6 linked regions of the Homo sapiens genome follow. The protein of the gene in region 1 purifies or fractionates together with the protein of each later gene. This does not show direct contact. Each region holds a gene or a part of one and is shown in the gene's direction. Other genes may lie near its edges.

Region 1 (6,028 bases):
TTAGAGACCAGCCTGGCCAACATGGCCAAGCCCCATCTCTACTAAAAATACAAAAATTAGCCAGGCGTGGTGGCATGTACCTGTAATCACAGCTACTTGGGAGGCTGAGGCAGGAGAATTGCTTGAGCCCAGGAGATGGAGGTTGCAGTGAGCCAAGATCGCACCACTGCACTCCAGCCTGGGCAACAGAGTAAGGCCCTGTCTCAAAAAGGAGGAGGAAGAAGAAGAAGAAGAAGAAGAAGAAGGAGAAGGAGAAGGAGAAGGAGAAGGAGAAGGAGAAGGAGAAGGAGAAGGAGAAGGAGAAGGAGAGGAAGAGGAAGAGGAAGAGGAAGAGGAAGAAGAAGAAGAAGAAGAAGAAGAAGAAGAAGAAGAAAAAAGAATCAAAAGACACAGATCAGCCAAAACAATCTTGGAAAAGAAAAAATTGGAGGACTCACATTTCCTGACTTCAAAACTTATTACAAGGCTACAATGATTGAAACAGTGTGGTACTGGCATAAGAATAGACATATATTGCAACGCAACAGAACTGAGAAACCAGAAACTGATTTCTGGATCAACTGATTTTCAACAAGGGTCCCAAGACAATTCAACAGGGAAAGAATTGTTTTTTCAACAAATGGTACTAGGACAACTGGGTATGTAAAAGAAGGGGCCCCTACCTCACACCATATACAGAAATTAATGCAAAATAGAACAAAGGCTTAAATGTAAGTGCTAAGTCTACAGCAAAATCTTAGAAATCATAGCTGTAAACTTTGTCTTTGGATTAGACAATGCTCTGTTAGATCACCCAAAGCATAAGGAACAACAACAAAGTAGATACACTGGAATTCACCAAAATTACAAACATTTTTTGCTGCAAAGGACACTATCAAGAACATGAAAAAAACTCACAACATGGAAAAATTATTTGTCAATCATGTATTTCATAAGGGAAGTGCAAATCATGTCTGATAAGGGAATTGTATAATGAATACTCACATCTCAATAACGAAAAGACAACCTAAATTTTAAAATGGGCCAAGGATCTGAATAGACAGTTCTCCAAAGGAAGTATACAACAAGCACATGGAAAGATGCTCAACGTCCTTAGCCATCGGGGAAACACAAATCAAAACCACAGGGAGATACCACTTCACATCTGCTGGACTAAAGACAGCGGTTGGTGTGCACACTGAGGAAATGGAACCCTCATACCCCGCTGGCTGCTGTGATTCCACTTGGAAAGCAGCCTGGCAGCTCCTCACAAGATTAAGCACGGTAGTCACCTACGATCCAGCCATTCCTCTCTTAGGTATAATGAAAACATATTGCCACACAAAAACTCATACAGGAATGTCCTTGCAGCGTTATTCGTAATAGCTAAAAAATGGAACAACTCACATGTCATCAGCAGATGAATGGATAAACAAAACTTGGCACAGCCATGCAGTGGAGTATTATTCAGCCACACAAAGGAATACAGTTCTGACGCAATCTGCAGCACAGACGCACCTTGAAAACGCTCACCAAAAGGAGCCCCCACAGAGACCTCCTGGCGTGTGACCCCATTTCCATGAACTTCCAGAACCTGCGGGGTGGTGGTTCTATGTGTGGGGGTGCAGGAGAGGGAATGGGGGTAGCTACCGATGAGAACAGGGTTTCTTTTGGGGGTGGTGAACACAACTTCGTTAATATACTAAAAACGAACTGTACACCTTAAATTAGGTGAGTTTTATGGTATGTGAACTGCATCTTAAGCAATTATTTTAAAAATTTAAAAAGCAAGCTGAGCAGCCTGGCCAACATGGTGAAACCCCATCTGTACTAAAAATACAAAAATTAGCCAGGTATGGTGGTAGGCGCCTGTAGTCCCAGCTACTCGGGAGGCTGAGGCAGGAGAATCGCTTGAACCCGGGAGGCAGAGGTTGCAGTGAGAGGAGATCGCGCCACTGCACTCCAGCCTGGGCGACAGAGCGAGACACTGTCTCAAAAAAAAAAAAAAAAAAAAAAAAAAAAAAAAAAAAGCGAGGTGCGGTTTCCAAACTGCAGATACCCATTGGGAAACGTGGGTAACACGGTTTTGAAATCTCTACTGCGTCTGTAATGGTAACACGGTCCTTGCAATGTGATAATGTCCCAATAGTTTATCTTTATAAACATTTTAAAACATTAACAAGCCTTTCTCCGCCTTTGTTCCACTTGCGCCTCTTTGCCCCTCTCCCCCGGGCTCCTCCTCCCGGCTGGCCCTCCCCGCTGAAGTCACGGAGGCGCTCAGCTGGCCCCGGGGTCTGGGTGCGCCCGCCCTGCCCGCAGCCGGCGAGGGGCCCTGGGGGGTCGGCGGGGCGGGTCCGGGGGAGGCCGCGGTGACCTCGGGGCGCGTGCAGACCCCGCCCTCCGCGCCTGGCCACAGATTCCAGCCCACCTTGGCGACCTGCGGAGCCGGGGGCGGAGAGAGGAGGCGCAGGAGGACCCGCGACACAGCTCGGGATCCGCGCGCGCTGGGCCTCCGGCGCCGCTCGTGGGGTTCGGGAGGCCGGGACCCTGCCCGGGAGATGTGGACGCCGGGCGGACCCCCGGGGTCCGCGGGCTGGGACCGCCGTAGGTTGGGCGCGAGGTTGCGCGCGGCGTTCGCGGGGCTGCAGGAGCTGCAGGGGCTGCGAGCCACGCAGCAGGAGCGGGTACGGGGCGCCCTGGCCCTGCAGCCCCCGCCCGCGCCCGCCGCGCCCTGCGGCCCCCACGGCCTCCACGGCCCCGAGCAGCAGCTGGAGGCGGCGCTGGCCGCGCTGCAGGAGCAGCTGGTAAGGACCGGGCGCCGGGACTCGGGGCTGCGAGGTGTGCGGGCCACAGGCGCTGCTCCTTCGGCAGCGACTGTGTGTTAGTGGGACGGGGGTGTCTGATGGATGGAGGGGACGTCCTTTGGGATTTGAATGGAATGCAGTTCGGTCTCCAAGGAGGGGGACATGGAGGCCCCGCGCGCAGGTGCCTAGAGGTGAAGCGCACAGGTGAGGACCCTGAAAACTGCCCGGGGCTGCAGCCCGCGCTCCGCCGTGCGTGGATGTGCGCCTACCCACGCCAGCATCCCGAAGCTGGCAGATTTGGGAGAGACACCCTGTTCGTTACAGGGTTACAGCACTGATCTGACCTGCAGGCACTGACCGGCGTTCCCCTGGCGGAGGTCGGCTCGGGATCCTGGCATCACTCCCCCCCCGGGGACCAGGTCCCCCCTGCTGTCTTGGGTTAGGGGCAACAGTGTCCGCGTGGTAAAGCGCACCCCGACTTGTCCTCAGGAATGTGCTGACTTTTCTTAAGGTCGCGTCACTGTAATAAAGTATTGGGGGAAAGCATGTAACTGACAAAGGCCTCTTCAACTTTAAAATGTGACCTGACCTGTAAGGAGAGGCGTGTCCTCTGATCCAGAGGAGAGAGACTCTGATTTCCCTGCCACGGGCCCTCTTCAGCACTCCCTGGGCGCTCTGAACCCCTCCTTTCACACAATGAAAGGAACTCCACTCATTACCCCTCTGCTTATTATGTTATTGTATGATTTTGTTAAACTTACTGGAAACAACTCACAAGCGTTTTCGTAGTTGCTGTATTTTCTTAAAGACAAACTAAAAAGGCTGGAGAAAGATATGTTTACTTGTGTTACCTCTGTTACACTAAGTGAAATTTCTTTTACATTAGAAATTTAAGTCTGTCCTGTTAAAAGTTACTGCCTTTAAATGTTGCCCAGGTGAAGCTGCGGCATGACCGTCTGCCTCGCTCGCTCAGCCAGGTTGTTAACATAGCAAACCCTTCTGGATTAAAGAATCAGGAAGTCCAGTGTCTGGGACGCCTCCCAGGTTCCCCGTTATCTCCTGACCTTGTGGAAGACGGAGGTGGTAGACTGTGTGGGATTAACCTGGGCCCCCAACTCTGCCCCTGATGCCTCCTGAGAGGAAAGTAGCTGGTGTACAGACTTTGTTTACTCACCCAGTGACCAAATCCTGGCCGTCTGTTTAGGTCGTTTGTGTGTTTGCACCAGACACAATCGCAGCCTCTGTGTGACCTCAGCTCAGCACACGACAGCCACAGACGTGTTACACATATGTGATGGGAAGGGAGGTGCTGCTGAGATGTTGTGTGTTTGCACCAGACACAATCGCAGCTTCTGCGTGACCTCAGCTCAGCACACGACAGCCACAGACGTGTTACACACATGTGATGGGAAGGGAGGTGCTGCCGAGATGCTGTTGTGTGTTTGCACCAGACACAATCGCAGCTTCTGCGTGACCTCAGCTCAGCACACGACAGCCACAGACGTGTTACACACATGGGAAGGGAGGTGCTGCCGAGATGCTGTTGTGTGTTTGCACCAGACACAATCGCAGCTTCTGCGTGACCTCAGCTCAGCACACGACAGCCACAGACGTGTTACACACATGGGAAGGGAGGTGCTGCCGAGATGCTGTTGTGTGTTTGCACCAGACACAATCGCAGCTTCTGCGTGACCTCAGCTCAGCACACGACAGCCACAGACGTGTTACACACATGGGAAGGGAGGTGCTGCCGAGATGCTGTTGTGTGTTTGCACCACACACAATCGCAGCTTCTGCGTGACCTCAGCTCAGCACACGACAGCCACAGACGTGTTACACACATGGGAAGGGAGGTGCTGCCGAGATGCTGTTGTGTGTTTGCAGCTCAGCACACGACAGCCACAGACGTGTTACACACATGGGAAGGGAGGTGCTGCTGAGATGCTGTTGTGTGTTTGCACCAGACACAATCGCAGCTTCTGCGTGACCTCAGCTCAGCACACGACAGCCACAGACGTGTTACACACATGGGAAGGGAGGTGCTGCCGAGATGCTGTTGTGTGTTTGCACCAGACACAATCGCAGCTTCTGCGTGACCTCAGCTCAGCACACGACAGCCACAGACGTGTTACACACATGGGAAGGGAGGTGCTGCCGAGATGCTGTTGTGTGTTTGCACCAGACACAATCGCAGCTTCTGCGTGACCTCAGCTCAGCACACGACAGCCACAGACGTGTTACACACATGGGAAGGGAGGTGCTGCCGAGATGCTGTTGTGTGTTTGCACCAGACACAATCGCAGCTTCTGCGTGACCTCAGCTCAGCACACGACAGCCACAGACGTGTTACACACATGGGAAGGGAGGTGCTGCCGAGATGCTGTTGTGTGTTTGCACCAGACACAATCGCAGCTTCTGCGTGACCTCAGCTCAGCACACGACAGCCACAGACGTGTTACACACATGGGAAGGGAGGTGCTGCCGAGATGCTGTTGTGTGTTTGCACCAGACACAATCGCAGCTTCTGCGTGACCTCAGCTCAGCACACGACAGCCACAGACGTGTTACACACATGGGAAGGGAGGTGCTGCCGAGATGCTGTTGTGTGTTTGCACCAGACACAATCGCAGCTTCTGCGTGACCTCAGCTCAGCACACGACAGCCACAGACGTGTTACACACATGGGAAGGGAGGTGCTGCCGAGATGCTGTTGTGTGTTTGCACCAGACACAATCGCAGCTTCTGCGTGACCTCAGCTCAGCACACGACAGCCACAGACGTGTTACACACATGGGAAGGGAGGTGCTGCCGAGATGCTGTTGTGTGTTTGCACCAGACACAATCGCAGCTTCTGCGTGACCTCAGCTCAGCACACGACAGCCACAGACGTGTTACACACGTGATGGGAAGGGAGGTGCTGCTGAGATGCTGTTGTGTGTTTGCACCAGACACAATCGCAGCTTCTGCGTGCCCTCAGCTCAGCACACGACAGCCACAGACGTGTTACACACATGGGAAGGGAGGTGCTGCTGAGATGCTGTTGTGTGTTTGCACCAGACACAATCGCAGCTTCTGCGTGACCTCAGCTCAGCACACGACAGCCACAGACGTGTTACACACATGGGAAGGGAGGTGCTGCCGAGATGCTGGCTTCAACTGTTCTGTCAAGGGGGTGGGAGTGCAGGTGATGATTAACTTGGCTTAAGAAATATACAAATCAAACTTGCAAGCGCTCAGTCTCTAAT
Region 2 (5,289 bases), on another chromosome or scaffold:
CAGAGTCAGGAGAGCAAAGCCTAAGGGCCTAAGTGGACTCTGGAAACAGAGACAGATAATGATGGAGCAAGTATTCCTGTGAAAGTTCTGTGTACACCAAGGGGGATTAAGAGAACAGAGGGAAAAATGATGCCATGGATAGACTCAAGTGAGATAGTGAAGGAGTGAGGAAGGGCTCCGGAAAGAGTAATTTTAGAAAATACTGTGATGTGGAAAATAACTAGAGCATGGATGAATGTCTTGGCAGATGGGGAAGGAATGGATTTGGGGACCTCATGGTGGGGGGAAATGTCAGTGCTTCCTGCCTTTGTATGCTTCCTTCAGATGGACTTCTGATACGCTTACTGTACAAGACAGACTTTGATAAACAAGAGAGCCATTTTGCAAAGGACACAAAAGGCCGACTTAAAAGGTAGTCTCCACATTTTGTTCTGAAGATCTAGCCGTTTACTAGGGATGTTGCTCTTGGGTCTACACTACCCAAGATACTACTGAAGGCAAGGCTTCTTGATCTTGGAGAAGCTTGGTGTGAGAATTGGGGAAAATGTAAATATCCATATGAAACACTTGAAAAACATAAAACAATAGAGAGAAAACGCAAATGTATAATTGTGTGCATTTTGCTCAATCAAGGAATGCTACCTGGAGGAAGTGGTTGGTCAGGGGGATGGGGCTGGGCAGGTGCAGGGTAGAGATGGAGCAGAATAGCTGGGCAGGATCCCAGGAATATGTAGACTCTAGAGGAGGAAAGGTCTTTCATAATTTGAAAGCCTACATGGTAATAACGATAGCTTACATTGTGCTATACATTGTGCTAAATCGTTTATAGGCATTATCCAGTATTTATCTTAGCAACAGCCCTCTGAGGTAGGAGCTACTATAATCTCCATTTAGATGAGATAACAGAGACTCAGAGAGGTTAAGTTAGTTGCCCCAGGCCATACAGTCTGAGATTGAAACCCAAATCTGTCTCCCTCCAGAGCCCCAGCTCTAAACCACACTAGCTTATTGTCTTCTGGATTTTGCTGCTTGTAACTCATTCTTCATCGATGTACGGGCCATTAGCAGAGCTCTAGCAATTAGCAGCTACTGTGCAATTGGCCAGGATGTGAGGTCATGTCTAAAGTAATCTAAAATATACAAAGCAGGAAGCGCAGGCCACAGAATAGAAGCAGGATGTTAAAGTGGGGAAGAAAGGTAAAGCCAGAAAATATTTGCCATCGTTAATGAAGAGATAAAGGTTTGGGGTTTTTATGTAGTCCAGAGGCAGCTGGTAGAGTTTAGCATTTGAGTTTGGATGAATGTGCATACAAGTGTACAGCAAATGTGCCTTGGAATGCATTCCAAAGCCAAATTGCCTATGATTTGGGGACCAGTTCCTGTTTTGTGTTATCTTCACCTATTTGCCTGTTCACAAGGGCTGGAGGTTGAGAGCAGCTTCTGAATAGATGCCTTTAAGCACCTGCCCTCACAGGGAGCATGCTTCCTGGAGTCAGGGTCCTGAGGAGTGGGTGCCTTCCGTCTCCATAGGCTGGGACGGAGTAACCTTCAGTATCAGCTCAAAAAGAGTACTGTGTCTGTAGCTAGGATACTGCCAAAGCATGAATAATTGTGATGAGGGCTGAAAGATAAGTCACGGAACGATGCCAAACAGATTTCTGAAAAGATGATCCCTGGTTCCAGTGGCTGCCAGAAAATTCTGAGGTCACCAAAGGCCAAGATGCAGAGAGCCTCCTCAGAGAGGGAGAGGGCCTCGAAAGCAAAAGATAATGAAATTGCTTCCACTGAGGTCGCGGGTGCTGAGTACTGTGCCCCACGCAGAACTTTCCCTGCCCAACGGGCCTTCTTGCTATTTTCTTACACCATTAACTCTTACCTTCTTCCAACTTGGCTAGAACCAGCCTGAGGCTGCCCCAGCTCTCTATCTGTGATAATGGCACTTCCAGAAAACAATTTTGTTCGTTCTAAGCTCTGGTCTCCAAAGTATAATATTTTCTTATATGAAAAGATAAATCTCAGGATGGCCAGTATTGATGTCAGCTGTCAGTTGAAATGTTCGGAGTGGATAGCTGCACTTGTTAGACAATCAGACTGAGGACAAAGAAGTAAGAGGACATTAACAGCACAGAGGCTGGGCGCGGTGTCTTACGCCTGTAATCACAGCACTTTGGGAGGCCGAAGCAGGCGGATCACGAGGTCAGGAGATCGAGACCATCCTGGCCAACATGGTGAAACCCCATCTCTACTAATAATACAAAAATTAGCTGGGTGTGGTGGCGTGCACCTATAATCCCAGCTACTTGGGAGGCTGAGACAGGAGAATTGCTTGAACCCAGGAGGGAGAGGTTACAGTGAGCTGAGATCGCGCCGCTGCACTCCAGCCTGGCGACAGAGTGAGACTCTGTCTCAAAACAAACAAACAAACAAACAAACAAAAAAATCAAAAAAAACAAAAACAAAACAACAACAACAAAAAAACAGAACAGATACATGTGGGACAGTTAGCAGACAGCGGCTGTGACAGAGCCTTGTACAGGATTCCCTGTAAGTGGCCACACACCCTCGGTCATCCATCTAAGAGTATTCATTAACCCCTCACTATGTGTGCAATGCAGAGCATGAGAAGATCAAAACGAGGTAAAGAGATCTGCAGTTATCTAGCTTGAGGGAGAGGTATTATGAATATTTGAAAATAGAGATCATCCCCAAACCTCACATCAACCAATAGCTTCCATATTCATCCTGACTGGAGCTCCTAAAATTTCCCAAGCCATGGTGTTGGCCTCTTGCCTTCTATTTCTTCTGGCTGCCTGTTGGCAAAAGCGTCAGAGCTAGAGGACAGGTAGGAGAGAATAACCCAGGCAATTCGCTGGAAACATGGATAGACTGGAGTAGACCGTAAATAGCCTAAAGTGAATTCAGTTACCCTGTTTAATGGCTCATGCCATTCCCCTGAGAAAGGAGCCGAGGGGCAGGAGGCGTGTTCGGCCCATGAGGAATGGCTGATGGGATTCTGCCTTGGCAGGCCTTGTTTCCAGTCTCTACCTGGAGAAGGGCTTAGTTATACTGGGGAGCTGGCTGAGTCTGGTGTTTGTGTGTTTGTGGTTAAGGCAATATCTGTCTCCTCCAAACTCAAGGCATGCCGGCATAATGGCATTTTAGCCCCAACCCTTTCAAGATGGGAATAAGGAAAGTCATGAGATTCCCCAACCCTGTAGCCAGAAAGCGGTGACAGGTGTATAAAGGCAAGGACGTGAGTTGAGGGCATCATCTTTGGGTGTTGTTAGAAGACAAGAGGCACACCTTCCCTGGCTTTGGAGTCAGCCAATGTGGATTTGAATTTTGGTTCTGCTTTTTGGTAGCTGGTTGACCTTGGGCAAGTTACTTACCCTCTCTGAAGGCATTCCATTGCCTCAGCTGTAACAGTGGGATGCTGTCTCCCTCTGTGGGTTGTTGTGAGGATTGGGTTAGAAGTGAGAAGTTCTATGAGGTCCCATGTGAGAGGTGGAGGTTAGAAGTCAGAGAGAGAAAAAGGTTTAACACACCCATCCCAGTGCTCAGTACACAGTAGGTACTCAATGAAATAAGAGCAAACCAAGCTTAGGTAGCTTTGTGTGATGTAAGTTGGGAAGAAACAGCATATTAAATAGTATGGGGGAGAATCTTACACAACCAGGAATATTGATCATGACTGTGATGGTGTGGCTCTGGCCAGCTCTCAGGTTTAGGAGGGAATAATACTCAACTGGGAAGTTCTTCCCTAAGCACATGCTGATTTTGAAGTCTGTATTGACATCATCATCCATTTTGCTTAATTGCATGCTTTGTTGACCTAAACAGAATTTTTGCTTATATCTAGTAGACAGAAATTACAAAAATAGGCCCTTTAAGGCAAGACACTTACCTTTTTGATCTAGGGAAAATGTGATCCAGCCAGTTTGAAGAGAAAGCCCTCATGAGCCACAGTTTTCTTAGAAGAATGGGGCAGAAAGGTCAGGAATGAGAAAAACAGTTATTGTTTTCTTGTCATACCCACCCACAGACATGTGTACATGCCAATGAACTTCCCGTAGCAAGATGTGGATGATTTAAAGTTTCCCAATCTCTCTGTTCCTTCCTTAAATACCAAGTGGAGACCAGATAGAGAACAAAGCCAAGTTTTCTCAGCTCTTTGAGCAAGGGAGGGTTATTTGAATAGCATCTCTTCTTATTGATTTTCTTAAAGGAATCAAATGCAGTTATCCTAAAAGAAGTTTAGGTCATATTGATAGTTTTATTTTTCCATCCAGAATATACATAAATTCATCTGTTTCTTGATTCCCAGGCTGAGTTCAATGCATTTAGATCTCCTATTTGGGGTCTTCTATCATGAACACACATTAACTGGCCCATTTCTTTGTTTTTTTTTTTTTTTTTTTTAATTACAATACATGCACATTTACACAAAAGCAAGAGAATCTGTGTTTTGTGACTGTGCATGACGTTGTCAAATTTGACTTTGATGAGGGCTCACATCTGGTATAAACATATTTGAGGGCTCAAGCATTTTTCAGGGCCCAGCTCTGTTGCGTGCAAAATGGATCAGTATGTTGCTTTCAAGGTGGAACATCTATTGTAGCTGCCTAAACCACATAATTTGAGGGGCACAGATGCCCCTCTTCACCCCAAATATCTTGCTTAGAGTTGCGGTGCATTTAGACTGTGCTTTTAAGGCATTATCTCCACAAAGCTGGTGTAGAAATACAGATACGTGACCTTACCTCAGTATTTTTTCATTATCACAGTAACATGGATGAACTTGCCAGATGAACAGGAATTCAGCAGAGGGTCGAGGGATGAGAAATCTTAAAAATTTAATTTGTATTTTTGGTGTGGAGAAATGGAAACGGTCTAGAATGTAGGGCAGTTGTCTGAAAAGGTCTAGAGGGACCAAATAGCTGGGAGAAGTTTGCCCCAAATGGTTAAGGTGGGTGCCAAGGTGCCACCTTCTCTGACCTCACAGTTCCCCAGCTCAGCTCTGATCCCCAGGGACCAATGAGGTGCCAAAGGGTAAGGGCTCTTTGGAAGGAATTAACGAGGCTGGGAGAAAAATAGAGAAATGATGGGGGCCCCTTACAAGAGAACTTACGAGTATAAGAAGAAGGCAGTGGGGACTCAAAACTGATCAAGTCATTTGGTTTATATGCAAGTGCCCTCAGGGCCACTGAGGCACCTGGCAGAAATGCCCATGCCCAGTGCTTTTTTTTTTTCCTGAGACGGAATCTCGCTCTGTTGTCCAGGCTGGAGTGC
Region 3 (5,289 bases), on another chromosome or scaffold:
GGAAGGAGGGTGGTCAGGGGGCCCAGGTGTTGGGGGACCTGACGCCTTACCCTGAGCAGGTTCCAGATCTCTTGGCCGCAAGGCTCTGTCCCTCCCCACCCCTTCCCCACTGCATGCACTACCTGGAATGTGTTGGTCACTGCCACTGTGGCATGGCTGCCCCCAGCCTGCTTGTCCTGGGTGCTGAGGGTACTTGTCCCACAGTGGCTGGGAGCCCCCCACCCAATGCCTGTGGACCAGACCAGTTTTGTCACCACCAGTGGGGGCTTAGGAGGCGTTGCTCCTGGGTGCTGGCTAAGCTGCTCCCAGGCTTACCTTAGAGCCTGCTGCTTTCCCCCAAAAGCCTACTGACGACACAGCCCCCGTCTGCCCTTCCCGCTCTTTCCAGCCTGTTGGATGGCTCCTGTTCTCTCAAATCTCACTCTTACCCCCAGGAGGCTCCCTGCAGGCAGAGTGGATGAAAATATCCTGCCCCTTGGTCTCTGAGGCCCTGGCCCACCTGGGGCCTTACAGAGCAGGACAAGGAGGCTCCACTCCAGCTCTGTCCCTGCCTCACTATGTGACCCTGGGCAGGCTGCTTGCCCTCTCTGGGCCTCTGACCTCATCTGGAAAGTTCCTGGTTATGCTGCGACACACAGGGGACTGGGAGTGGGAGGAGTGGTGTCTGCCAGGCACAGCAGCTCCAGGCATGCTGGCTCATTCACATGGCCCCATCCTGCCGATCACTCACCCATTCATTCACTCAGCCCACCATGGTCACTGGACATCTAGTCCACGTCCTGACACACGCCAGGCCTGTGGGCTACGCCTGTAAATGGACCAGGCCCGCCCTGCCTGCATGGAGCTACCGCCCAGAGAAGGGACACAGTAAATAAGACCTGGTGGCACCTGCCAGAGCGGCTCCTGGATACAGCTGGGAAGAGAACGGGGTGGGGCAGTGGGCGCCCCTTCCTGCACACACCCCTCTCTCCTCAGCCGCTCTGGGGCCTGAGGCCCTCTCTCCTGGTCCTCCTGGCCTCCCACGATCCCACAACGTTCCAACTCCTGCCCAGCCCTGCCTGGAAGGCTCACCCTGCCACACTCTTGCCCATGCTGGCTCCTCTGCCGGGAGTGCCCTTCTTCCCCTTCACCTCAGACCTCACAGCCCAGCCTGTGCCTCTTTCCTGACTCCCCCAGGCAAATGGGCCCCCTCATAGAGCTCCCGCATGGCGCGTGGCGAGTCCTCGCTGTGACAGACACAGTGCCGGCCCCTCTGTTGTCACCAGCTGCCCGGAAGTCCTGCCTTTGCTTTCTAGCATCCCTGAGGGGCCTGGCCTGACAAGGTACAAATCACCATTTTTAAAATTGTGGTAAGATAGACAGAAAACTTCCTTTTTTAAAGCTGAACACTGTTGCGTTGTGCAGATCGACCACATGTTTGCCTTTTTTAATTACACACATTTCAGCGGCAGTAAGTGCATTCACAGTGCCGTGCAGCCAACACAGCATCCATCTCCAGAACTTCACTTTCCCAAACAGGGCTCTGTGCTCTGTAAGCGCAGACTCCCATCTTGCATCCCCAGCCCCTGGCACCCACCATTCTGCTCTCTGTCCCTGTGAATATGACTGCCCTGGGGATGTCATGTGAGTGGAATCAGACAGCATTTGTCCTTTCCTGACTGGCTTACTTCACTTAGCCTCATGTCCTCAAGGTTCATCCCTGCTGCGGCAATGGGCAGAACTTCCTTTTTAAAGCTGAACACTGTTCCATTGTGCGGATGGACCACATTTTGTTTGTCCATTCACCCATTGATGGACACTGGGTTGTTTCTGCCTTTTGGCTGTTGTGAATAGTGCTGCTGTGAACATGGGTGTGCAAATACCTCTCCGAGTCCCTGGTTCCATTTCTGTTGGGTGTATACTCAGAAGTGGGATTGCTGGGTCAGATTGTGATTGGATGCTGACTGTTTTGAAGAGCCGCCATACTGTTTTCCACAGCAGCTGCACTGCTTTACCTTCCCTCCACCACTGCACAAAGGTCCTGGTTTCTCCACATCTTCGCCATCACTCATTACTTTCTGTTTTTCTTTAATAATAGCCATCCTAATGGTGTGAAGTGGTATCTTGTGTTTTTAAATTTCCCCCTCTTGAATAAAAGTGTGAGTGATGAAGTTTAGCTTACAAAAGGGATGGTTACGTCTTTGTTGTTTTTCAAATATAGTCATATAACTGAGAGATTATTCATCCACATGGTACAAAAAAAGGCTGCACATATTGTCTATTTGGTTCCCTTGCTTCTTGTTCTTCTGCCCAGAGGCCACGGCTGTGTCCAGTTCCTTTGGGTCCTTGGTGAATTTCTGTGCATTTATATGTGTGCTTCATCATTGAAGTGCTCCCTCAGCAAGCTGGTGACACAGAGCAGTTTAGTTTTCCCACCACTGTTTTGTGGTTTCTGGATTTGAGCCAATGAAACGCTCAACTTGGGGGATGTGTGACCAGCCGGCCCCTGCAGGAGGTGGTGGTCTCCTTCCATGGGAAGCCCTGGCCAGCTGCTTGCAGTGGGGCCTCCATGAAGGAAGCCAAGCCCTGTGTGTCTTCCCCAGGCAGGAGAAGGGAGGCTGGTGGGACTGGGCCTGAACATTCCAAGATGAACACCCCCACACATCTCCAGGAAGCCTATGCGTCAAGCCTTCATCATTGTCACCTTAGCTGGCTCTCCGTCCAGGTCAGTCCTGGGCACAGTTATCAGCATCTCTTTGACAGTGGGCCCCAGATTCAGGCAGAGCTGCCAGAGGGCATGTGGGAGCAGGGCCAGCCTAGGTTGTGCAGGACAGGCCCCCACACCAAGAATCCACACAGATATTTATGGGCATGAAAATCTGCGAGCAACTATCCGAGTCTGGTCCTCACTCCTCTTGACATCTAAACCACAAAATGCATTTTGTATGATTTGAATATGCATTGAGTTTTCCAGGAATGCAACTGCTCTCGCAGTCGAGGGAAGATCAGACTCTGATATGTTCGGAGCTCAGCCAAGAGCTGCCACCATTCAGAGCACCACATCACCAAGGACAGCATCTCTCATGGTGCCAGAGTGCCCAGTGAACTCCAGCATCCATCTGGGTTTGTGGTCGCTGTCACACGACCAGGCAGGTGACTATAGGGTAGGCCCACCCACGATTAACATGACAAATTACCGTTTATTTTATTCTAAATTATTTTCCTCTTTTTTTTTCTCTGTAATTTTACCATTCAGCCATTCTCTTGGTTCTGTTTTAAATATGTGTGTGGATGGATCACATGAGTCATCAGCTTCATTTGAGAAGAGAGAAGAGGATAGTGCAAAGCTCTGGATTTAAGGAGCGGGGTGCTGGACAAGGGATCTTTGTGGTAATGGAGCTATTGTGTATTTTGACTGTGGTGGCACTTGTATGTGCCTGTATGTGTGTGCATGCGTGTGTTTAGTTCTATGCAGGCGTATCATGTATGCAGGCTCCACGGTACAAGCAAAATCGGAAAGCTACCTAAGATGGGAGGACAGTGCAGTGTCAGAATCCTGGTAGTGATGGATCCTATAGTTTTGTAAGATGTTACCATTGGGGGAAACGATGTATATAAGATCTCTCTGTATTGTTTTTTGTTTTTTTTTTTTTTACAACTGCAAATGAATCTACGATTATCTCAAAATAAAAAGTTTAATTTTTAAAAGGTGAGGGTGGGTATCAGGTCTGACAGGCTGAGATCCCTGGTAATTGAGGACAGCAGACAGCCAGTGACCTCCCAGTCTCAGTTCCTTGGTGGTGCACCATGGTCACCAACCTCTACTGCCCTCCACTCCCTGACACCTGAGACACCTTGGGCCCTTCTCTCCAAGGCTGCATCCCACCAGGGGCACTGGGGCCGGCCCCTCACCCCAGAAAGGAAACACAAGTCCCTTTTGCTGCCAGCTGGGGCCTGGCTGGCCCCCAGGGGTTCTGAGTTTCAGACCCTGCTCTGCCAGCAGGCAGTGGTTTCAGCTGGCTGATGGAGCAGAGGTCTTATCCATTGTCCCCCAATGCCTCCCAGAACCGGGGCCCCAGCCCCAGCCCAGGCCTCTTCTCAGGTGGGCCTTCCTGCTCCCCTGGGCTTGCAGAACAGCCCTGCTGACGGCCACTCCTGCCCTCCTCTGCCCTGTGCCCGCAGCATTCCTGATGACACAGTCACCATGCTTGTCTGTGCCTCCTGCCACCACAGTGGGCAGCTGGGACAGAGACAAATAACATTCCATCAAATGCCATTTTGAAGACAAAAATGGACCAGTCAACTAAAGCTAAAAGGTTAAGGGAAGGAAGCAAGTACTTTTTATGACTTTGTCATTCTACAAATTGACTGTTCTATGAATTAGCTTTCAGTGAATTGACTTGTCACTGGTTGAAGGAAAGCTGGGACATGGCTGGTGAGGTTGTGGGCAGGACTAGGGCAGTGAACAGGGCAGTGGGGAAGCCAGGCTGGGCGTGGTGTCGGCTCTCTGAGGGGCCAGGCTTTGCCCACTAGACTGCCCAGCCCAGGAGTCCCGGCTCTCCCTCCCCTGTGCATCCCATTTCCTGAGCATGAGCTTGGGATATCAGGGCTCTGAGGAGCTGGGGCTGCGCCAGAGATGCCCGTCCCCCTTTATATCCCATGGCGTGACCTTGCCACACTGGCCCGACCTCCGAAGGATGAAGGTCCTGTCAGAGCAACCCCTGTGGCTCAGCAGGCGGCTGACCTGAGCGTGGCTAATAGAAAAATGTTTTATTGGCACCGATGGCTTCATCCCTCATCAAGATGTCCCTGACATCTGCTTGGCATGGTTACTAAGGGAAGTGATGCATCTTAAATCACCAGGGCCCTGGCTGAAATTCACTGCCTGTATCTTAAGGCTCTCATTGGCCCCACGATAACACCGAGCGTTTTCCTCCCATTTGCTCTCCACCATCAGATAAAAGAGAAATGCCCTCAAGTCTCTCCAACCCCCTTCCTTGTTCGGGTGTCTGTCCCCTGGCCATCTCTGGGCTGCAGAGAGGTCAGGCCACCTCAGAGGAGCTCTCCAAGACCAGGTGAGCTCAGCAGATGTGGGGTCCAAGATCTGGGGGTAATCAAGACCTTTCTCTGTGCCTCCCCTGCCAGGACCCCACCCCTCTCCAAGGAGCTGCTCAGATGGAACTCCTTATGTGCTGCCCAGTGTCTGTGTGACTTGGGGCAGAAGACAACCTCTCTGAACCTATTTCCTTTTCTGTAAAATGAGGCTAATAATTCCAGCTTTGCAGGGTGGCCATCAGGACAGAATGAGGT
Region 4 (5,289 bases), on another chromosome or scaffold:
TCACCAGGATATTCCCCGCAGTTGTGTTTCTCAGTCTTGTATTGGTGATAAATGGTGCCTGAATTAACGCACGTACAGTTGCAGAGGCCTCTTTCCCTGGTGGTGTTTGTATCCTGGCAACGTTGCCGCGTGCTGTGGCTCATCCCAGCCTGAACAGCTGCTGCCGGTGTTAGAACTGAGCAACGGAGACTTCTAACCTTTAGCCTGGATTCCCAGTTCTCGTGTACCAGTGTCACATTTTGTAGCTGTCAGGAGCCCAAAATAGAATGAAGAGATCTGTAGGGGAGGAGCTTTCATCAGCCAAACCATTTCTTTCATAATTAATATTAAATTGATAGTAAAACTAGGTATTTCCAGCTTTTTTCATATCACGAATGTAAGACAGATACCAGTACCTCTTACGCAGAGCTCAGCTCATCCGTTCCTAAACTGGGGTACAGAAGCCCTCCTGGCCCCTGGGATGGTCCATAGATAAGTATCAGAGGAGTCCATGTACCCCAGGAAAACGTATGCACAATTTTACTAATGTATTTGCAGTGTTTTGGGGGCAGGGCCTATGGTTTTTAGCACGTAAGAGTGTGAGAGGATCCCAGGAAGATTAAGAATTGCTATAGTCAAATGCAGAAAGTACAGTTTTACAAAGGGCCATTCTGTGTCACCTAGCAAATGATCTCTTTCATCCTGCCCTCTTGCTACTTCCTAATCACGATTCATTCCATTTTTCCATCTTTTTCATTTGATATCAATCTATTAGTGAATGCTTTGCGAACTATAAAAATGAATCAGAAGTGGATCCTGCTTTTATGGCGTTTACAACCAAGTAAAGGAGATTGAGTCATGGAATGTAGAGTTAAAAGGAATTGCAAAGATCTTCTGGTCCAGCTGTCTATCTAATGCTTAAATCCGTTTTCAAACAGCTCCGTTGAGTTCTGTCCACCTGTGCTTGATGGCTTCCAGTGCTGAGGGTCACCGTCTCCCAGGATGACCTCTGTGGACAGCTCCAGCTATTCAAAAGTTCCTCTTTACACTAAATTGAGTCCACATCTGACTGCCCATGACTTCCACCAGTCAGTCCTAGATTTCCTTCCCCGGCCCCCATGGGGTCACACAGAACAAATTTGTGGCCTCTTTCGTGCCCTAGTGCTTAAACATGTAAAAGGAGACCTCATCTCCTTCCGAAAACTTCTCTGAGCCATCACCCCAAAACCTGCAACTCTTTCTCAGGCGTCAAAGTTCTGAGTCCTTTCACCCTTTAACAGGGATTAAAATGTAAAATTGTTTTATAAAATTTGGAAGCTGAGACAGGAGAATCGCTTGAACCTAGGGAGCAGAGGTTGCAGTGAGCCAGGGTTGCACCACTGCACTCCAGCCTGGGTGACAGAGGAAGACTCCATCTCTCAAAAAAAAAAAAAAATTCTAGCTGTTGTAAAGCCATTCTTATAGGTGTTGCCCATTGTGTTCTTTATGACCCTTGTAGAGAGATTCAGAAGGTCATTCTTGTATCAGATGTCCTGAGATGTTTACTGTTATTTAATAATAATGTTCAGTGGATCTGTTACTATGTAGTTTATGAGTAACAAAGACCCAAAATAACAGTGATTTGAATATGACAGAAGTTTGTCTGTCATGTGAAAGTCTAGAGGTGGGCAGCCCAGAGCTGATTCTGCTCTTTGGTGCTCTTGGTGGATTCAGACTTGAATCTTGTTGCTCTGCCGAGAAAAACCTTCATCTCCAAAGCCACGTCGTGGCCCAGGATGGCTGCTCCAATGCCAGCCATCACACCGCCTTCCAGTCTGCAGTGGAAAGGACAAAGAAAAAGATGGGCCAAGGGCCTGCTCCTGCTGTCTTTTCAAGTTCCCCAAAGTGGCTGCAGGAGACCTCTGCTTACCCCTCATTGACCAGAACTCTGTCACATGGCTGCCCCCAGCCGCAGTGCAATCTTTGTTCTGGACAGCTGTGTCCCTAGCTGAAAAGTGAGGCTTCTGTTAATTTGAAAGAAAAGGGGTACAGCCATCGGGGAACAACAAGCTGTGGCTGTGCAGGCAGCACCGAGGCGACGCTGCTCCTGCTCAGGGCCTTGTGTTCTGCTCTTGCTGGAAAAGCTTCAGTGCAGATGTATCTTGGGTGGTCAAGTCAATTCACATCATTTTTGGAAGTAGATACAATATAAATAAGTGAGGCAAAATTAGGATAATTTCATCAACTCTGAAATGCATTGGTTGCCAGATACGCTATTATTTTATGTCCCTCTAAGGTAGGTTAAAAATGCTGCCAGTTACGGCGGGGCACAGTGGCTGACGCCTGTAATCCCAGCACTTTGAGAGGCCGAGGCAGGCAGATTGCCTGTGCTCAGGAGCTCGAGACTAGCCTGGGCAACGTGGCAAAACCCCATTTCTACAAAAAAGACAAAAAAAAATTATCCAGGCTTGGTGGCGCTCACCTGCAGTCCCAGCTACTTGGGGGGCTGAGACAGGAGGACCACATGAGCCCAGGAGGTCAAGGCTGCAGCGAGCCGTGTTCATGCTGTTGCACTCCAGCCTGGGTGACCGAGTGAGACCCCGTCTCTTAAAACAAAAATGCTGCCAATTAGTCTGTGACCCGCCATCATTCGAAAGATGCATCCTGACTTGAGAGATGTTAAAATATGAAAATGTACATCTCTGAGTTGATGAAATAGGGTTCCTGAACCAAGTACTTGTCTTTCTTAGGAAATGTAGGCGTAATGTTTTGACGTATCAAAGAAGGTTCCCGAGAGGATGAGGACAGTGCTGTTGACACCCTTGCTGTCTTAGTGTTTCCCTTACAGTGCATCTTTCATTGTTATGTTGATTTTATATGATTAGTATGCTCACTATGGTGAACGAATTGGAAGATATTATTTGATTTGGGCAACTTAGTTCAAATTGAATTGTTTCCTTCAGAGGTCTTAACAGACTGAAGTAGTTAAGTCTAAATAGAGCGTTGAACGAAAGAAAGCCTGACTTGGTTTGAGATAAGATGTCTGACAGAGGAATCTTGGGAAAAGCTGTTTGGAGAGTTGTCTTGCACAATTGTCTTATGTATCGTGCTTGAGTGTTTTCATTCCTTGTGCTGACCACAACACAGAGATGGGCTTGATCTGTCGCACATTGGAGGCCTGGGATTTATCTTCTCCTTTTCAGGAAATGAATGGGGTGCTGAAAGGAATGCTCTCAGAATGGTTTTCCTCCGGGTTCCTGAACCTAGAACGGGTTACCTGGCATTCACCGTGTGAAGTGCTTCAGAAAATCAGTGAGTAAGTATTACGGTTTTCATTTTCTTTGTACATACATTTTTCATATATATTTGTGTATGTTTTATATTGGCTAAAAGCTAATCTATCTCCATTCATATGTACAGTTTATTTCAAGTCTAATAAAATCCAAACACAGTATTTGCAAATGCTGCGGCTGTCACCACACATGATACTAAGATTATGGAGGAAGACGAAAGGGCACCAAGAGAAACTGATATGTCTGTCAGTGACCTGCGTGTGAGGTCTTATTTGTGTCCTCTTATTTAAAGCAAACACACCCATTTTCGCTCGTCCCAAGACCCCGTGATCAGAGTTGTAGAAACTCACTGGACCAAGCGTTTGCATTCGTAATCAAAACAGTATTTAGCCCACCTGGTGGTTAAGATTTCTCCCTGAGTTAAAATCTCTAAACAAACTATATCATGTGTTAGTTACATCCAGGACCCGTATGACACAGGCTAGCATGTCACGGTGCCTTCACTACCTTTGCACGTAGGCATCTTCACATTACATGTTGTCCCATGGAATCCATGGTTTGAAAAGTGTCCTATTTGAAATGTAACCAATTCAATTCAAAGGGCTGACAGTGCCTGCTGCCATTTCACATGCTGAAAACAAAATAGCGGTGGGGCGAGATTGCTGGAAGACACCAGATGAGCCCCCTGATTGCAGCACTGACGGCTTCACAGAGATCCCAAGGAAAGAAAAGACAGTGTTCAACACCAAGCGTTTGATTAGGTTTCACGTTAAAATCTGCATGAATCCTTCCCCGGAGCCTCACAAACTCCTTTTAAAACTGGGGTTAAAACTGGAGCACAATTTTGTGTGTAAAATGGTCATTCACTGTAGTTCCTCTCAGTGGGTGCTGTTTCTCATGAAAATGACTTTCTTTGAATTTTCCAGAAGAGTCCATTAAAGCTCTATTTAAAGAACTTGTTTGACTTAGACGAATAGTATGAATAGGAGTCAGCAGCCGTTGCTTGTGAATTATGCATTTGTCTTGTCTCTTTATAAATTCCGCCCCAGGGCTGAGGCTGTGCATCCTGTAAAAAACTGGATGGACATGAAGCGCCGCGTTGGGCCCTACAGAAGGTGTTACTTCTTTTCTCACTGTTCGACCCCTGGGGAGCCCCTGGTCGTTTTGCACGTGGCACTGACTGGTGACATCTCCAGCAACATCCAGGTACCTGCGATGGTCAATTCGGGACAAGATGGGCACCCCATAGAGCCCCTTGTGTTTTTTGTTTTGTTTTGTTTTTACTTGATTTTATCCTCCTTTTTTTTTTTTTTAAATAAATGGTTTTGGGCTTTTTTAAATTGGTTAAATAAAATCTCCAGATTTGTAGGTGTAGAGCGTAGAAGTGTAACAGGCAGACAGTTATGGAGCAAGGCGAGCATTCATCTGGCTGTGTTGATCTTAGGTTGAGATACAGTTAAAGTCTATCACAGAACATGTTTGTGAGGCAGAAAATAATTGTGAAGGAAGAAGGGACAGATACCTGATTCATACATAGTTTACCTTTACAGCTTTTGTTAAATGCCTGTGGGGAGTTTTGAAAGATACTTGATTAGAAAATTGAAAGAGGCACTCCATCCCTTATGCTTGATGTGGGCCGAGGACACTCCTTGGCGAGTGGAGGTTATGGGACTTGTGGTTGATAGCCCCGTCTGTGGCAAGCTGCTCTGCTCCTGGATGAGTTTGGCAAGAATGTCTGAAACACTCCTGCAGGCCCGTGGGGGCAGAAGAACCAGGGAGCACATTGCAGGGTCTGGAAATAGGAGTGCTAAAGATAGGTGGCAGGGAGCATGAGACCCCTGGGGCATTGCAGGTTTGCTCAGACCAAGAGGACATGAGTGGCTGTTAGGAAGCTAAGTGGATGATGGCCCATCACAAGATGAGTGCCCTAAGCAGGTGTCCTGCTGAGAAGTTAGAGAAGCTGAGTAGGGCAAATGAGCAGACATTCCTGATCACCAAGGAGAAACACATTCCCTTACAATGTTTGTGTGTGAAAGAG
Region 5 (5,289 bases), on another chromosome or scaffold:
TTTGCCAGAGATACTAGGCTGTGTGAAGGCTAACCATCTGTCAAGTGATAGAGACAAAGAAAGGTTTTAATATACTAGTCTAAAATTTCCACAAACTTGTTTTGAATGGTATTGTCATTTTCTTTTGGCCTTCATACTCTGTGTTGAATATGCACTGGGTCAGTCACCCTACTTTGTTTTATGAACAAACTATTCAAGGTCCAGATGAGGTTATTGTCACAGCTGATGTGATCTAGAGGCAAGATAAAATATGTTTTGATTTTGCTTTCATATAATCAAAAACTCACAGTGGGCCACCCACTAGTAGTTACACAAATGGTTTCAAGTGTACTTGTTTTCACCCACCCATTCTGAATTTTGGGTGTCTTAATTATTTTGCTTTATGTATTCAAGCCTTGTATTTCAAACCCATTCCTGAGCTGTTTGGGGGAAGAAAAAGTAGCAACAGGAATCCAGATTGCCTGTTTTAGGTACAATATGGTGTGATGTGAAATTGAAACAGCAGATTGGTGAGAAACTTTAGTTTCAAACAAATATAAACTAGTTTGTTTAGTGAAGTCATACACAAAACAGTAGTCTCTATTGACAGGGCAATGTTTTTTTCAGTGATTCCCATATCATGAGGTCACTTTTGTTCTTTGGGCCAACAGTCTGTTTTCAAGGTGTCATATAAGAAAAGCACTAAATACTGCTGATTGTAATGATATACTTACATATGGCAGCACAAGAAATTATTTATAGCAGTGCTAATTATATCAATAAAAATAGCAATATTAATACTGTGTCAAAATCCATTCTTGACAGTATGAGGTAAACAGAACTATAGTCAAACAAAGCAGCCAGCCTGTCTTTACTGTCAGCTCACAGATATGCACTTTAAGAAAAATATACACACAGTTTAGAGAGTTGAGTGTACCAATTTAATCTCTTTTCAATTACTTTTGGCTTTTAAAAAGATGTTCTAATTCAACATAATATTAAAAAGATTTTGATTTTTAATTTTGAAACTCTTGGTACCCATTTTCTTACTGTCATTAGTAAGTTTCTAGAAATGTATTTGTATTTCACTGCTTTATAAATTATCAGAAATTCATTTTAGTGTGCCCTCATTTTGGAGCACAGATTACCATTACAAAAGGAAACTATTAATAGAACAATCTCTAACAATTTACAAAACAAAACAAAACAAAGACCCCTACCACCACCACACACACATACACACTCTCTCGCACTCACACACATTTTCAGTAAATCTCAGGCTTCCTTTAGACAAAAGAAAATGGCCTTTTCCATGGTTTTGATTTAAGATAAAGCATAAATTTTGTTTGTAGTTTTCATTACTTCTAACGAGTTTTTACAGTTTTATGCTATTTTAAATGTGTCGTCTTAGGAATATAAAATTAAGTAAGTAGAAGTAATTACATCCAAAGATTTTTAACTTGGGGACAATATCTACCTTTTCAATCTCTCATATATTAAATTCAACTCTTTGTTATACATTGTCAAAAATCTCAGATGTGAAGTTAGTAGAGGTTGTTCTAGTTCTACTGCGGCCATTAATTAGTTACATGATCTATGGCATGTTGCATAATCTATGCGGATCTCCACCTTAGCACCTTAGATTTTTCATTTTTAGGGTCATTTTCAGTTCTAATCATCTGAGTTTGTTTCCTTCAACAATTGAATTGTTATTTTAGCTTCTGGTAGTGTTACTGAAACTGATGCTTAGGACACCTAGAAACAGTATATGTAAAATACTTGACTTTGCTTTCCACTTTTAGTCTTTTATAAAAGTTTAATTTTAATGATACATGCTTTCTAACATAGCACACTAGTAAAGTATAGATATATGATATTAAGTACTTATAATCTTTCATAGTGGGTAAGTATAATAAATCTATTAGTTTACATAAATACTTTGCCAACTCATCTTAACTCAGGAAGGTGTATTGCTAATAGAATTTGTAAACTTGACTCTGCATTTCATGCAGCATAAAGTTGTTAAAATTGAGGATGCAGGTAACAACAGAATGAATCAACTCACATTTTTCTATTTCTATAAAATCTATAGATAGATACATTTATTCAAAGATAAAAGATAAATTTGGTTTTGTGATTCTCTTCTCTAAGCAAAACATAGGTATACATTGAGTAATCAGGAACCACCTCCATGCAGATCTTATAAAATTGGTAATTTTTAACTACTGCATTTAGTTTTTGATCTTATATTATATCCATGCACAGATAGATTTACATAGGAAGGAAGATAAGGTAGGCAAAGAAATCTGACTAGGAAAGAATCTGTTAGAAAAGACTTTGCAAATATTGTCCTGTTATATATTGAAAGAAACAACTATATACAATTTCTATATACCTACTTGATATATCTTTAATGATAACCTCAAAGTTCTAATTTAAAATTTTACTCTCAGTTTCTGTTTAATTGACTCATCCTTTTTGCTAGTATGAATGGTAGTGAAAGGCTTAAAGCTATCTAACATTACCTTAGATGGAAACAGCAATCTGCAGGAAGCTATACTATCCTGAATCCTCTCATTTCCTCACATCCACCCACAGCTCCAGATGTTCCTGGTACTGATCATATAATATTTTATAAATCACCTCGTAGCCAAAATATACTGTCTGTTAGATGATGGTAAGCTATTTTAGCTTACCAAACATCTAGCTAATCAGGAGAAATTGTAAGAATAATTTTAGATCAATTGTTGGACCCAAAAGGTGGTATGAATGCTTCAATGCATGCAAATAATGGAAAAGATATTCTAAATGTGCTTAAGGGAAGCTGGTTTTAGTGTTAACTGAAACCCAGTATACATATTGAAGAATCACTGTAACTCTTCTAAAGCCATGAGTACCAAAAAGACTAGCAAAATTATTAGTGGGAAGCACAGTGAAAAGTAAATGCATTCTATCCTTGTATTAAACAGGAATACTAATCACACCACCAACACCAATAGTAGCCAACATTTACTGAGATCTTACTTTGTTGCAGTCATTGGTTATATCTGCATTTTTTCAGTTAATTCCACAATCCCGTGAGACAGGTACCTTTATTATCCCAATTTTAAAGATATGCGAAGGCTCAGAAAGGGTAAGTATCTTGTTCAAAGTCACACAGCTAAGTATAAAACACATGGGAAATTAAACTCAAGTACAGCTCTGGAGAACCTAAGCTCTTAATCACCACCCCATCAGACCACTATTCTGGGACGATTTTAACTCAGTGCTTGCCCAGATTAATAATGGCAATTTTATTTCAGAAAGGCATAGATTTGGAGAAGGTTCTAGAGAAGGGTACAAGGTGAAAGAGTTGTAAGTAGGAACAATGGTTGCTGTGATAGAATCTTTTTAAAATATAACTCTTCAGTCTAGAATTAAAAATGATGATAGAGAATTTGTCTAAAGGTTGTACAATGAATAGACTCTAACTGCTGCCTGATTTAGTTCTATTTGCAACAGTGGAGCTGGGTACCATGTTAAAGCAGGCCTTGGAAATCATGGGTAGGAGCAGGACAAAGGAAGTATTACTGAAAGTTCTGGGAAGGTAGAGGTCAAAAAGGAAAACTAAATCAAACCCGACTGAATAACCAAGAACCAGGTATCATGCAGAAATAGGGGTGAGGGAGACTAGAAACAGTATATTCAAAGGGTAGCAAATCCTATGACTTTGGAAGGCTTTTGTGTTTGTTTGTTCTTTGTGCCCTTAACATTTGTTTCAGAAACCAATAGCTGGCTTAAATATGGGTCACTGAGAGTTTCGAAAACAAAGACTGCTATGCTTTTGGCACAAAAACATGATCATCAGTCCTAACCTAGAGTTAGGCAGTAAGTTTAAGTGCATGACAAAGATATGCAATGTAGCACAATCTGTGTGGTAAGCCATTTATTGAATGCCTACTGTGTGCCACCCAATTTGGAAATCACTGTTCTAGGAACATTTATAATCTACATTGTTGTTTGCTGTCCAATTTTCAAAAACAGGAAAACATCTGTTAACTTTCTTGAGGATGTGATGGATATGAGGGGTAAAATATTATATACCTTAATTTTGTTTTATTTATTATGGAATTTAGCTTTTGTCTCCTCCTTCCCATATTCATGGAATTTTAAAACAGCCTCTACTATGCTTTGAGTGGAATACAGTCTAGACTTTTATTATGTACTTTAACTTTTCCTTGATTTGTCACTATACTGAAAGAAAGATTTAATTTTATCTGATAGTGTAAATGCATTTCTATCAGAGTAGTAGTCTCAAATCAGTTCAGGTAAAGTCAGTGTACATGACTTTGGATTATATTTAGTATAGTCAGCATGCATGAATTAAAAGGAATTATAGTAACCTTTAAAGTGAATTTTTATTGCAGATAATTTAAATGACCTCCAACCAAGTACTTCTGTCATGTATACATACATACTCATATACCCTTTGTATACAAGGTACTAAAAACTTAAAAAGTTTTCAAAAGATAATGTTTACTGTTAAGCTATATTACAAATATAAGCTGTATCATCTGAATGCAGTCAAAGAATAATGAAATTGCTATACCATCCCTTATGTGTCTTTACTGTTCCTTATGAGAATATCTGATATTTTCTTTATTCTCTTATTTTTAATGCATTAAGAAGTATAGTATAATAATCATTTTATATAATTCAAATGGATACATCACTGAAAAATGTATTTTAAAGTTAGAAAAATTATCAACATTCAGTTAGTGCATGGCACCTTTCTCCTCAAGTTCATCATCGGTGGTACTCTGTTGTTCTTGTAATTTTGATAGCCTGTGGGACCTAGTGTTCTTAACAGCTATGTTGTTTGTATCTCACTGTCCTTTATACATCTGACCCTCAGAGAAATACCTTTGAACACTCATGTTTTTAATAATCTTTCTTGTTTTAGAAAGGGATTGAGAGCAAGGCAATACTGTGTTAAAGGGGTCATTTGAGCTGAAAAGCAGTATGGGAAAAATGAACAAAATTCTAGGTTCTTCTGATTCAAATATTCTACATTACAGTCTCAACATTTGTTGTTAAGCGAATTACCAAAGTGTATAAGAGCCAAAAATAAATGGTTGTTTCTGTCATTTGGGGTATGCATTACTCTGTTTCTGTCTTATATGTGTAATGATGAGTTTTATAATGCACAAATGGGTGCATCTGGTGTAAAGTGAGTTTGATTCAGTGTGATGTTTTATATGCAGTTTAACTTATAACTTAAATTCTTTGACATTCATCACTTAGGAAAGGTAACATTTAGAATTATAGTAC
Region 6 (3,500 bases), on another chromosome or scaffold:
AGGTGCTAGGAGTTTGCTGCTTCTTGAACCATAGCACTTTGCTAAGTTTAAAAAAAAAAACAAAAAAACCTATGTATAGGTAAATGCTCACGTACTACAAATGTAGCCAATAATTTCAAGGGCTTCATGGACCTCAGAGGCCCCTGGTGAAAAACACCTGCTGACAATAGAGGGAAGAGAGAAGGAGTTTTATTAACCCTATCGTCCTAACATGCCCTAGCTATTTTATGCTTAGATTTCCTCTTTGGACATTTTAATGACAGCATAAAATGTAAGTCAGTATGCTCGGATAGCGTTGGTATAATTGGTATAATGTTTTGTTTTTATCTTTTGCAATGCATGAAAAGAATATATTTCATATATTGGTTTAAGTTGTCCTTAAGGAAACATTATTTTTGTTTTATAGATTGGGGGAAGTGAAGTGTAAAAAGTCATTGTTTTGAAAAAGAAAGACATTGATAATTGCCAGTATTAGTGTTGCAAAAAGTAAAAATGAGCACAGTTTTATTTCCTTTTGTTTGTTCATTTTCGTTTGTGATAGTGTATGTTAATCATTCAGACTCCTTTTATGTCTCCAAAGGACACTCTGATTGTGTGGTCTGAAGCAGAAAATTATGACTTGGCCCTTAGCTTTCAAGAAAAAGCTGGATGTGATGAAATTTGGGAGAAAATATGTCAGGTAATTTTTTAAATAAAAAAATCAACATGCTTTCTTTAAGTGTTTAGTTTTTTGCCATGCTTTCAACTAATGCCCAAGAGTTTAAATAAATTTCAAATTGATCTTTTAAATTCACTGCTGTCTTTGAACTTGATTTAAAGGAAGGTGTAATTTATTGACACTAAACTCTCTAGCTCATACCTTTGCTGAACTCCAGTGTTTTATATCCACCTGCCTTTTTGAAACTTTCTCTTTTCATGTTCACTAGCATCTCAAATTTAGTACTCCAAAACCAAACATAATCTTCTCACATATATCTATCCCATCTCCTTCTAAGTGCCATGCAGTTGCTGAAATCAGAAACTTGTGGATCTTGTTTATCCTTCCATCATCGCTTTTATCCATTCAGTCCCTCGATAATAAATCTAGATCCATTGGCTTATCTTCATTTTTACTTTTGTAGTTTTCCAAGCCACCATCATTTCTTGCCTGGTTTATTGGTTTTGTCTTGACTGATCTTCCTAAATCAACATTTTAGCTAGAGCAATTAGGTGATCTTTTTAAAAATGCAAGTCTGATTACATCACTCTTTGTTCATAACTTCTTGTGGCTTTTGAAAGAAAACCCACCCTTGTACTTGTCTTGAGCAGTATGGCTGTTGACTGACTATTCAGCCTTACCGTGCCTCTAGGCTCGAATGTTCTTAATTTATTCTGGAGTTTCCCTAGTGACATAATCACAATCTTTTGTGAATTTGCATTTGTATGTGCTCTAGTAGCTAATGCTGTTGGCTCTTGTTATACACTTCTTAGGCCATTTCTTTCTAGAGAAGGTTTCTCCATCTCCATGTTTACTTTATCTAGAGAATAATCTTCACCAGATTCCTTAATTCCTTTGAATGTGGCCCTCAAACCAGCAGCACAAGCATGACCTGGGAACTGATAGAAATGCAAATTCTGAGACTAGCACCCCTCCCGCCGACCCCAGACCTACTGGATCAAAAACTGCAAGTAGGGTCCAATAATTGTTTTTTAAAATCCTTTCTTAGGAATTCTGTTTTCACAAGCCCTATAGGCCAGACTTTTCTCTGTAAAAAACAAGATAGTAAATATTTAAGGCTTTGCAGGCCATATAGTCTCTGTCACAGCTAGGTCACCTCTGCTGTTCTAGTTCGGAAGTAGTCATAGACAGCACATAAATGAATGGAGGGGCTGTCTTCTAGTAAAACTTTTATTTACAAAAACAGGTGGCAGACCAAATTTGGCTATGGTTTGTCGCCCCCTGCTTTTGGTGATTCTGATGCACCCTAAAGTTTGACAGCTATAGCATTCATAGAAGATATAGTGTCCTTAGCACAGTTTTTCCTTGACTTAATGGAATTTATTTCAAGAATATATTCTACTTCGCTGTGCTTTTCATAAATTAACCTGTCTGTTAAGCTGTCCCTTTCCTTCTCTGAAACATGAAAGGACTAACATTTATATCTGAATACCATCCATCTTTTTAGTTTTTCTTTGCTTTCCATCCAACAATTATATTTATAGCATATGTCTCTAGATTTTGTCTTGTAGTGTTATCCCAAAGAGAGAGAGGTGACATTAATGAGTTCAGGCTATGTTAATAGCATCTGTTATTCAGACAAATCTTGTTCTCCTCTCTCATCTTTCTGAATCAAACACTTCCACTCTGGATACAGTCTTCCTTTATGCCAATGTGTAACTCAAACCTGAACTCACTTTGTCATTGTCATGCCTGGCTCTCCTTTAATATTGTCTGATCTTTACCTTTGTTTGGTCTTTAATATCATAAAGTTTTTCATCATCTTAATAATTTTATCACTAGCTGCTTTAATATTCTTTTCTGATACTCCCTTTCAACTTTTATATAGTTTATGTTCAAGGTGTCATTTCTCAGTCACTCTTTTTATGGGTTCTGTCTGAACTTCTCAATCATTTTCTAGATCCAAGAAAGTCATTACATTTTGCTCTCTGAGATATTAAATGTTTTTCTATTTCTTGAACCATGTTCACCAATTTGCTCAACTCAAAAAGATGGCATTCTTAATATAATAAGGGCACTCCTCTCTTTTCATTTGGTTTGCTAATCAAAATCTAACATTTTTCTGTGGATAAAGTCATAGTTTGGGTATCAGGAACTTAAAACTATAATGAGAGCTTACATAATTAACAAATTCAGAGCCAGTGTGAGACCATGCAGGTACAAGCCATGAATGTGACTTGCCTCCTTTCAGTGCTGCTGTCCACTTGGTTGAGGTCAAGACCATATCACCTTGCAGCACATTTCAAGAAAAGTATTCCAGGTCGTCATCTTTTCTAGTATCTATCAGTGCATCTGTTCATTACGCTAAGCAATTTAAGTTTCTTGGCTTTTCCATATAAGGTCTAATTTTTTTCATTGCTTTACCATTCTACTTGGCCTTCTACTTGCTTTAGTGTTCACTGTCCCAAATTCTAGGGCCAAGATAACAAAATTTGTTTCATTTCAAAGTTTATCCTTGACCTTTTGTTACCAAAAAAAATGCCTTACTTTAAAATGTAGTCAATATAAGTTACCTTTTTATAATAAGAGCCCCTCCAGTGGCATAAAATTAGGTTTTATGACAGATTTTCAGGCTCCTAGAGGGATCATGAAGGCTACAGGTTAGGGTGTGTAGAAAGGAAAATATTTTCGTGGTTTGGTTACTTAACCTTCAGCAGACCTTTTTTGGGAATAACTCTACTACATATAGGTTGTATTTACTTTATATGTGGCTTCATTTTTATGTAGGTACACTTGTATTCTGCCTAGTGTTTTTTAAATCCTGTGTTTGGGCTGTCAGTAT

The links.
Region 2: the proteins of DACT2 (region 1) and SEL1L3 purify together in Homo sapiens (affinity purification with mass spectrometry; one large-scale study listed by BioGRID and IntAct). This does not show direct contact.
Region 3: the proteins of DACT2 (region 1) and IQSEC1 purify together in Homo sapiens (affinity purification with mass spectrometry; one large-scale study listed by BioGRID and IntAct). This does not show direct contact.
Region 4: the proteins of DACT2 (region 1) and MLYCD purify together in Homo sapiens (affinity purification with mass spectrometry; one large-scale study listed by BioGRID and IntAct). This does not show direct contact.
Region 5: the proteins of DACT2 (region 1) and ZBTB20 purify together in Homo sapiens (affinity purification with mass spectrometry; one large-scale study listed by BioGRID and IntAct). This does not show direct contact.
Region 6: the proteins of DACT2 (region 1) and PPP4R3A purify together in Homo sapiens (affinity purification with mass spectrometry; one large-scale study listed by BioGRID and IntAct). This does not show direct contact.

Annotation. Positions count from the first base shown.
Region 1 is NC_000006.12:168,316,143-168,322,170, reverse strand, and holds the start of DACT2 (dapper homolog 2), read left to right. Parts: upstream 1-2,393; 5' UTR 2,394-2,537; coding exon 2,538-2,783; intron 2,784-2,814; exon of another isoform or gene 2,815-2,987; intron 2,988-6,028. UniProt on the Homo sapiens protein: Involved in regulation of intracellular signaling pathways during development. Negatively regulates the Nodal signaling pathway, possibly by promoting the lysosomal degradation of Nodal receptors, such as TGFBR1.
Region 2 is NC_000004.12:25,855,724-25,861,012, reverse strand, and holds part of SEL1L3 (protein sel-1 homolog 3), read left to right. Parts: intron 1-5,289.
Region 3 is NC_000003.12:13,062,346-13,067,634, reverse strand, and holds part of IQSEC1 (IQ motif and SEC7 domain-containing protein 1), read left to right. Parts: intron 1-5,289. UniProt on the Homo sapiens protein: Guanine nucleotide exchange factor for ARF1 and ARF6. Guanine nucleotide exchange factor activity is enhanced by lipid binding. Accelerates GTP binding by ARFs of all three classes.
Region 4 is NC_000016.10:83,903,826-83,909,114, forward strand, and holds part of MLYCD (malonyl-CoA decarboxylase, mitochondrial), read left to right. Parts: intron 1-3,161; coding exon 3,162-3,274; intron 3,275-4,300; coding exon 4,301-4,457; intron 4,458-5,289. UniProt on the Homo sapiens protein: Catalyzes the conversion of malonyl-CoA to acetyl-CoA.
Region 5 is NC_000003.12:115,136,474-115,141,762, reverse strand, and holds part of ZBTB20 (zinc finger and BTB domain-containing protein 20), read left to right. Parts: intron 1-5,289. UniProt on the Homo sapiens protein: May be a transcription factor that may be involved in hematopoiesis, oncogenesis, and immune responses. Plays a role in postnatal myogenesis, may be involved in the regulation of satellite cells self-renewal.
Region 6 is NC_000014.9:91,482,811-91,486,310, reverse strand, and holds part of PPP4R3A (serine/threonine-protein phosphatase 4 regulatory subunit 3A), read left to right. Parts: intron 1-580; coding exon 581-679; intron 680-3,500. UniProt on the Homo sapiens protein: Regulatory subunit of serine/threonine-protein phosphatase 4. May regulate the activity of PPP4C at centrosomal microtubule organizing centers.